2 linked regions of the Homo sapiens genome follow. The protein of the gene in region 2 purifies or fractionates together with the protein of the main gene of each other region. This does not show direct contact. Each region holds a gene or a part of one and is shown on either strand. Other genes may lie near its edges. The genes, in order: FUT1 and NAT16.

Evidence for each region.
Region 1: the proteins of NAT16 (region 2) and FUT1 purify together in Homo sapiens (affinity purification with mass spectrometry; one large-scale study listed by BioGRID and IntAct). This does not show direct contact.

What each region holds. Positions count from the first base shown.
Region 1 is NC_000019.10:48,749,674-48,754,163, reverse strand, and holds the start of FUT1 (galactoside alpha-(1,2)-fucosyltransferase 1), read left to right. Parts: upstream 1-1,522; 5' UTR 1,523-1,674; intron 1,675-2,880; 5' UTR 2,881-2,882; coding exon 2,883-3,980; 3' UTR 3,981-4,490. UniProt on the Homo sapiens protein: Catalyzes the transfer of L-fucose, from a guanosine diphosphate-beta-L-fucose, to the terminal galactose residue of glycoconjugates through an alpha(1,2) linkage leading to H antigen synthesis that is an intermediate substrate in the synthesis of ABO blood group antigens.
Region 2 is NC_000007.14:101,177,403-101,181,831, forward strand, and holds the start of NAT16 (probable N-acetyltransferase 16), read right to left. Parts: upstream 2,892-4,429; 5' UTR 2,640-2,891; intron 1,835-2,639; exon of another isoform or gene 1,695-1,834; intron 1-1,694. UniProt on the Homo sapiens protein: Probable N-acetyltransferase. Shows only trace activity toward L-His and no N-acetyltransferase activity toward other amino acids. The physiological substrate of this enzyme is unknown.

The sequences.
Region 1 (4,490 bases), on a different chromosome or scaffold from region 2:
CCCAGGCTGGAGTGCAGTGGCGTGATCTCGGCTCACTGCAATCTCCGCCTCCTGGGTTCACACCATTCTCCTGCCTCACCCTCCCAAATAGCTAGGACTACAGGCGCCCTCCACCACGCGCCCGGATAATTTTTTGTATTTTTAGTAGAGACAGGGTTTCACCGTGTTAGCCAGGATGGCCTCCACCTCCTGACCTTGTGATCCGCCCGCCTCAGCCTCCCAAAGTGCTGGGATTACAGGCGTGAGCCACCGCGCCCGCCCGAAATAGTGAAAGTCTTAAAGTCTTTGATCTTTCTTATAAGTGCAGAGAAGAAAACGCTGACATATGCTGCCTTCTCTTTCTGCTTCGGCTGCCTAAAAGGGAAGGGCCCCCTGTCCCATGATCACGTGACTTGCTTGACCTTATCAGTCATTTGGACGACTCACCCTCCTTATCCTGCCCCCCCTTGTCTTGTATACAATAAATATCAGCGCGCCCAGCCATTCGGGGCCACTACCGGTCTCTGCGTCTTGATGGTAGTGGTCCCCCGGGCCCAGCTGTTTTCTCTTTATCTCTTTGTCTTGTGTCTTTATTTCTTACAATCTCTCCTCTCCTCACAGGGGAAGAACACCCACCCGCAAAGCCCCGTAGGGCTGGACCCTACGTTAGCCTGCCCTGCTCGGGGTTGGCGATGCTGGAGGTGGGCCTTGGACCAGAGAAAATGCTTTAATTAGGTGACAAGCGGGCAGAGGCCTTTGTCTCTGGCGCCGGCAGCCACGGCCCCCGCTGACGGCGTGGGAAACAGACCCTGTTCCACTCCGGTCTCCAGCCTTGGAATGGTTGCCTTCGTGCAGTGCAGGTCTGGAAAGTAGCAGTTTGGCACGGGACCCTAGAATTCCCCAAAAGGAGTGACTAGGGGCTGGGATTCTGGAATTTGAGTGTGGACGGTGAGGCGGGGGGTGTGGGAGATCGGAGACCCTGGTGGGCGCGGGAGCACCTGCAGGCTGGAGGCCCTCGCGCGCTCCGGCGGCAGCCTGGCAAACAGGTTCTCCATCCCCCAGGAGGACGCGGCAGAGGGCGGACGATCGCTCCACTCGCCGGGACCAGGTGCGGGGGCCCTGCCCAGCCGCTGGGGCGTGGCCAGGCTCGAAGCACCCAGGTGTCGGGGGCCGACTCTAAGCCCTGGCACCGGAAGAGAGAGGGCGGCGGATTGGACCTCCCGGCTCCAGCATTGCAACTGGGCGCTCCGTCTCCTGGTCCACGCAATGATGCTGCGGCTGCTCAGAAGCCAGGTAGCCTGCCCTGGGTGAAGCCTTCGCGCAGGTCAATGACGGGGCGGAGGGGCAGGGCGCGGTCCCCTGCATCCCCGATCTGGGGAGCGGTGGGCCCAGGGGCCATCGCCTTAGCCCCTGGCGCTGGGGCTCGGCGCCAAGTGACGGGCGGGGCTCCACCTTCCAGCCATCCGCCCGGCCCGGGAGGGCGGACGCTGCGAGACTCCCGGCCGCGCCCTCTCCTTCCTCTCCTCCCCAAGCCCTCGCTGCCAGTCCGGACAGGCTGCGCGGAGGGGAGGGCTGCCGGGCCGGATAGCCGGACGCCTGGCGTTCCAGGGGCGGCCGGATGTGGCCTGCCTTTGCGGAGGGTGCGCTCCGGCCACGAAAAGCGGACTGTGGATCTGCCACCTGCAAGCAGCTCGGGTAAGTGGGGACTGCCCCACTCAGTTGTTCCTGGGACCCAGGAACAACTCCTTCAGAACCAGGAGGTGCACCCCCAACCTCTTCTCCAGGTCTTCCTAAGGCCCTAGGAATCTCCGCCACCTCCCCAGCCATTACTCCTCCAGGAACCAAGATGCTCCTTCCGCTCCTGACCCTCCAGCCTCTCTTGTTTTACTTGAACTATCGTTTCCCATCACCACCTCTGTGGTGGATTTTGCGCCTCACAGACAGGTACTCCTGAGAAACAGGCTGGTGGAAGAGTCCAGTATCAGCGGAACTTACAGGAGGGGAGACTCGAGATTCCTTCAGGAAAGGTGTAGGAACCTGGACCACTTTCTTTTTTTTTTTTTTTTTTTTTTTTTAAGACAGGGTCCCTCTCTGTCGCGCAAGCTGGAGTGCAGTCAGCGGTGCTATCGCGGCTCATTGTGAGCTCCGGGGATCCTCCCGCCTTAGCATCCGGTGTAGCTGAGACCACAGACATGTGCCACCATGCCAAGCTAATTTTATTTATTTTTTTTTGGAGACGGAGTTTCACTCTTGTTGCCCAGGCTGGAGTGTAATGGCATGATCTCAGCTCACCGCAACTCCCGCCCCCCGGGTTCAGGCGATTCTCCTGCCTCAGCCTCCCGAGTGGCTGGGATTACAGGCATGCGCCACCATGCCCGGCTAATTTTGTATTTTAAGTAGAGACAGGGTTTCTCCACGTTGGTCAGGCTGGTCTCGAACTCCCAACCTCAGGTGATCCACCCACCTTGGCCTCCCAAAGTGCTGGGGTTACAGGTGTGAGCCACCGCGCCTGGCCCATGCCAAGCTAATTTTAAAATTTTTTTGTAAGAGTGCTCTGTTGCCCAGGCTGATCTTGAACTCCTGGGCTCAAGGGATCCTCCCATCTCAGCCTCCCAATATGCTGGGATTACAGGTGTGAGCCACAGTGCCCAGCCAAACCATGGCTATCTTGAAAACCACTTGTCTTCCAGTCCCCATGCCCCGAAATTCCAAGGCTCTCATCCCTGAAACCTAGGACTCAGGCTCTCCCTACCTCAGCCCCAGGAGTCTAAACCTTTAACTTCCTCTTTCCCTGGGACTAAGGAGTGCTGCACCCCAGGCGCCTCCCTTACCCCACATCCCTCCTCAGCCTCCCCTCCTCAGCCTCAGAGCATTTGCTAATTCGCCTTTCCTCCCCTGCAGCCATGTGGCTCCGGAGCCATCGTCAGCTCTGCCTGGCCTTCCTGCTAGTCTGTGTCCTCTCTGTAATCTTCTTCCTCCATATCCATCAAGACAGCTTTCCACATGGCCTAGGCCTGTCGATCCTGTGTCCAGACCGCCGCCTGGTGACACCCCCAGTGGCCATCTTCTGCCTGCCGGGTACTGCGATGGGCCCCAACGCCTCCTCTTCCTGTCCCCAGCACCCTGCTTCCCTCTCCGGCACCTGGACTGTCTACCCCAATGGCCGGTTTGGTAATCAGATGGGACAGTATGCCACGCTGCTGGCTCTGGCCCAGCTCAACGGCCGCCGGGCCTTTATCCTGCCTGCCATGCATGCCGCCCTGGCCCCGGTATTCCGCATCACCCTGCCCGTGCTGGCCCCAGAAGTGGACAGCCGCACGCCGTGGCGGGAGCTGCAGCTTCACGACTGGATGTCGGAGGAGTACGCGGACTTGAGAGATCCTTTCCTGAAGCTCTCTGGCTTCCCCTGCTCTTGGACTTTCTTCCACCATCTCCGGGAACAGATCCGCAGAGAGTTCACCCTGCACGACCACCTTCGGGAAGAGGCGCAGAGTGTGCTGGGTCAGCTCCGCCTGGGCCGCACAGGGGACCGCCCGCGCACCTTTGTCGGCGTCCACGTGCGCCGTGGGGACTATCTGCAGGTTATGCCTCAGCGCTGGAAGGGTGTGGTGGGCGACAGCGCCTACCTCCGGCAGGCCATGGACTGGTTCCGGGCACGGCACGAAGCCCCCGTTTTCGTGGTCACCAGCAACGGCATGGAGTGGTGTAAAGAAAACATCGACACCTCCCAGGGCGATGTGACGTTTGCTGGCGATGGACAGGAGGCTACACCGTGGAAAGACTTTGCCCTGCTCACACAGTGCAACCACACCATTATGACCATTGGCACCTTCGGCTTCTGGGCTGCCTACCTGGCTGGCGGAGACACTGTCTACCTGGCCAACTTCACCCTGCCAGACTCTGAGTTCCTGAAGATCTTTAAGCCGGAGGCGGCCTTCCTGCCCGAGTGGGTGGGCATTAATGCAGACTTGTCTCCACTCTGGACATTGGCTAAGCCTTGAGAGCCAGGGAGACTTTCTGAAGTAGCCTGATCTTTCTAGAGCCAGCAGTACGTGGCTTCAGAGGCCTGGCATCTTCTGGAGAAGCTTGTGGTGTTCCTGAAGCAAATGGGTGCCCGTATCCAGAGTGATTCTAGTTGGGAGAGTTGGAGAGAAGGGGGACGTTTCTGGAACTGTCTGAATATTCTAGAACTAGCAAAACATCTTTTCCTGATGGCTGGCAGGCAGTTCTAGAAGCCACAGTGCCCACCTGCTCTTCCCAGCCCATATCTACAGTACTTCCAGATGGCTGCCCCCAGGAATGGGGAACTCTCCCTCTGGTCTACTCTAGAAGAGGGGTTACTTCTCCCCTGGGTCCTCCAAAGACTGAAGGAGCATATGATTGCTCCAGAGCAAGCATTCACCAAGTCCCCTTCTGTGTTTCTGGAGTGATTCTAGAGGGAGACTTGTTCTAGAGAGGACCAGGTTTGATGCCTGTGAAGAACCCTGCAGGGCCCTTATGGACAGGATGGG
Region 2 (4,429 bases):
CATCATCGTAGCTCACTGCAGCCTCAACCTCCTGGGCTCAAGCGATCCTCCCACCTTAGCCTCCCGAGTAGCTAGGACTACAGGCATGTGCCACCACACCTGGCTACTTTCTAAAATGTTTAATTTTTTGTAGAGATGGGGGTCCCACTATTTTGCCCAGGCTGGTCTTGAACTCCTGGGCTCAAGTGATCCTCCCACCTCCACTTCCCAAAGTGCTGGGATATTAGGTGTGAGCCACCATGCCCAGCCAAGATCTGTTTTTAGTGTATCTGGATCTCTGACCCCAGCCTGAAGAGCAAGGAGGGGAACTACTGGGTCCTTGAACAGGAGTTGAAGGGCCCAGGTGGGATAAGCTGATGAAGAACCAGAGATGCGGTTGCTAGGAACTCCCTCACTGTCTGGCCCACACTGTCAGCAATCCCTATGCCAACACACAAGCCTCCATGCCTGGAACCAGCCCAAGCCCCAGACCTCTTGCACCACGCTCTGAGGACAATGGGTCCCAGAGAACAGCAAGTTAGCTCCTGACTCCATCTGCAGCTCCAGGCAACATGAACCAGCTGTTCATGGGTCCCAGGAAAATGCAAGCTAGTGGTTCAGTGGTGCTTCCAGCAATACCCTCACTACCCCCAAAGGTGATAAGTTGTGAGCAACCGGTAGACTGGAACCCACCTGACTCATTCAAGACATTTGGCTCCAGTCTCCTTCCCTTGCTTACAGTGGGGAGACCCTTTCCAAATGGCATTTATACGTCTCAGATAAGGTTGTTTGTCGTGGGAGGTAAGGGTAGGGGTGGACGTGGGGAGTTCCCAGAGTCATGGGGAGGGAAGAACTTTCCAATGCATCCCCCATCTTTCAACCCAGGCACCACCTCTACCCCTGTTCCATTTTGGGGGACATGAACAAAGGTTCCCAGGTCCTTAAACCTTGGAGGAGGCGAGTAATAAAACAGGTCAGCGACTCCAGGCCAAGCCAAAGCTGTGGGCTAGCCTGTAACCCTTGCTTCACATGGTGACCACTTCCTACCCTCCAGTCCAGCACCCTCCAGCCTGGCTCCGTGGAACTCTTAACTCTCATCAGATGTCTAGGCAGAGGCGGAGGCAGCTGGTGAGTCCAGGGCACTGTCAGAAATGTAGTCCAGGTATCTCCTGGACCAAGCGCCCTCCTAAAAGAGGGACAGCATTTCTTGGCCGGGCGTGGTGGCTCATGCCTATAATCCCACCACTTTGGGAAGCCAAGGGAGGCGGATCATCTGAGGTCAGGAGTTGGAGACCAGCCTGACCAACATGGAGAAACCCTCTCTCTACTAAAAAAAAAAAAAAAAAAAAAAAATACAAAAGTAGCCGGGCGTGCTGGCGCATTCCTGTAATCCCAGCTACTCAGGAGGCTGAGGCAGGAGAATCGCTTCAACCCGGGAGGCCGAGATTGTGGTGAGCCGAGATCACGCTATTGCACTCCAGCCTGGGCAACAAGAGTGAAACGCTGTCAAAAAAAAAAAAAAAAAAAAAGAGGAATAACATTTCTCTCTTCATGTCTATCCCCACATCCTTGGGGACATTCTTTAAATCTCATAAATATGAATGATCTCTTTGGGGAGGGGGTGATCAGAGTCATAGCTGGGCATGATCGGAGTCAGAGCTGGGAATGCCGGCAGCCCACCCACCCGCACCCCACTCCCACCACACCCCACACACCTGAAATATCGATGCCCTTGAGGCCGATGGCTTCTTGACACTGGGGGAGGGAGGAGAGGGAGGGAAGGGAGAGCCCAGTCGCCGGAGAGGCGGAGACAAAGAAGGCAGCTGCACAAAGCGCCCAAAGATGAGAGCGAAAAGGACGGGAATGGAGGCAGAGAGCAGACAAAAGCGGACAGGAGATGCGGCCGCAGGGGACAGGCAGGGAAGCCGGAGGAGGCTTCGACACCGAATCACAGACATGACACCTCGTGACTCTGGGCCCAGCAGATGAAAAAAAAAAAATCCTAGCACGCACCCCCTCCCCTGGGACACTGTAAATAGAAAGCAGCGTGACACACCCCCTTCGCCCCGGGGTATGGGGGGCGGGGATCCGTGGAGGGGAAGGGGTCAAGGGGAAAAGAAAGTCAGAAAAAAGGCCGTAAGAGAACAACCTTGGAAACAGAGACGGGGAGAGGCGATGAAGTGGGGGCGGGAGAGAAGGCCTAGGGGGTGGGCAGAGGCAGGGGCCGAGGAAGATGGCCCAGCCAAAGGGGGTGGGGGGAGGGCCCCAGAGGGCCACAGTAGTGGAGAAGGGGGGGCTGTCCTGCAGGGTCTTCCCGAGTGAGGGTCTTCCCTCTGCCTCTACCCCGGATTGGGGGCTTGGGCTTGGGGGAGAGGGAGATTGCAAAGGGAGCGATCTGCTTGGCGGGGGTTCCCCTGGGCGCCGGACCCTGGGGACAGGTGGGAGCGACATGGCAACAGAGGGGGGCGGGGGAGCGCTTCTGGACACCTGAAGCGCAGCCTCTGACTCAGTTTTCTGGGTCTTCGGACTGGGAGGGGCTGGGCAGAAGGGGGCGCAGCCGCTTGGTCCCCCTGAGGGGCGGTGGCCTTCTGCTGCCCCATTCTGCGGTGGAGGAGCACGCTAGCCCCCTCCCCAGTCCCCAGGCCCGGCCGCCCCCCTACCTCGCCGGAGCCGGAGCTGGAGCCAGGGCCGAGATGCCGCAAAGCCAAGCGGGGCGGGCGGCGGGCGCAGACACCCCCGGTGCCAAGAGAGAGGTCCCTTTGGAGCCCCCAAGAGTCAAAGGAGGATGACGCGCGGGGACTCGGCCGCGCTGTCGGAGCCCGACTCTAACGTCGGTCAGCGCTGGGGCAGCGCCGCAGCTCCGTTGGCGACGCGGGCCGGGGCGCCCATCGGTTCAGGGGTTCGGGTGGCACGCGTGGCTCCCCCGGCGACGCTCCGGCGGCAGCTTCGAGGGGCGGAGACCCCGGCGACGCGGAAGAAACCCGGGACGGATCCGGAGCGGACTCGTGCCCTGCTGGCGGGGCCGGGGGTCGGGGTGCGCCCTGGGCAGCTGGGTGGCCTCAAGCCCTACTGGCGAGACTCCGCCCTGTGTCCCGGCTGGGGAGTGGGACTGAGGATGGTGGTGTCTCGGGTTTTGGTGGTGGTGATGCTGGTGTTGCTGGCTTAGTTATCTCCCCACCCCACGCCCAGCACCTCCGTTCTCTGTCCGGGGGTCCCCCACTGCCCTGAAGTACCCCTCCTCCAGGAGCCACCCCTCAATGGAATCTCCTCTCTCCATTATAAGAGCGGCTGGGAAGGGGACTCCGAGCCTTCGTCCCCGGAAACTGATAGAGGGAATCAGAAACCCTAGAACACCGGGAAGGCGAAGAGACATCAAGAGACAGAAGTTGAAAGGCTGAAAAGGGCAGAGGGAGGCCAAGATCTCTCCATCTTCTCACCACTGCGTGGGTGCCTGAGCACCCTGGTTCCCCGGGTGCACAAGGCCCCTAAATCCACAATGTACCCCACGGGACAGCAGGCAGAAAGACCTCCAGGTACACAGCGCACACCCAGGCACATTCACACAGACCTCTGCACTCAGGAGGCGCTGCACCCCACGCTGATCCTGGTGGCTGGGGAGGAAGAGGGAAGTGTGGAGCTGGGACCCGGGTGGGTGCAGCGCTGCCCCTGCTCTAATAAGGCGGTGGCCCAGGCTCTTAACTCCTACAAGGTTCTCCATCCCACCTATAAAGTGAGCTCAAGACTGGGTGCGGTGGCTCAAGCCTGTGATCCCAGCACTTTGGGAGGCCGAGGCGGGGGAATCACTTGAGGTCAGGAGTTCGAGACCAGCCTGGCCAACATGGTGAAACCCCGTCTCTACTAAAAATACAACAATTAGCCTGGCCTGGCCGGGCACGGTGGCTCATGCCTGTAATCCCAGCACTCTGGGAGGCCGAGGTGGGAGGATCACCTGAGGTCAGGAGTTCAAGACCAGCATGGCCAACATGGCGAAACCCCGTTTCTACTAAAAATACAAAAATCAGCCGGGCACAGTGGCCTGCACCTGTAATCTCAGCTACTTGGGAGGCTGAGGCAGGAGAATCGCTTGAACCCGGGAGGCAGAGATTGCAATGCGCCGAGATCGTGCCACTGCACTCCAGCCTGCGCGGCAGAGCGAGAATCCAACTCAAAATAAAATAAAATAATAAATAAAGTGAGATCAGAACACCTTCAGTTCTACCCTGTAAGGAGCCAGGAAAGTGATGGACAAAGCCCTTTAGCAACTGTAAACTGCTTTGGAGATGCAGGGAATAATTTTTTTTTTTTTTTTTTGAGAGGAGTCTCACTCTCGCCTAGGCTGGAGTGCAGTGGCGCGATCTCGGCTCACTGCAAGCTCTGCCTCCCGGGTTCATGCCATTCTCCTGCCTCAGCCTCCCCAGTAACTGGGACTACAGACGCCCGCCACCACCCC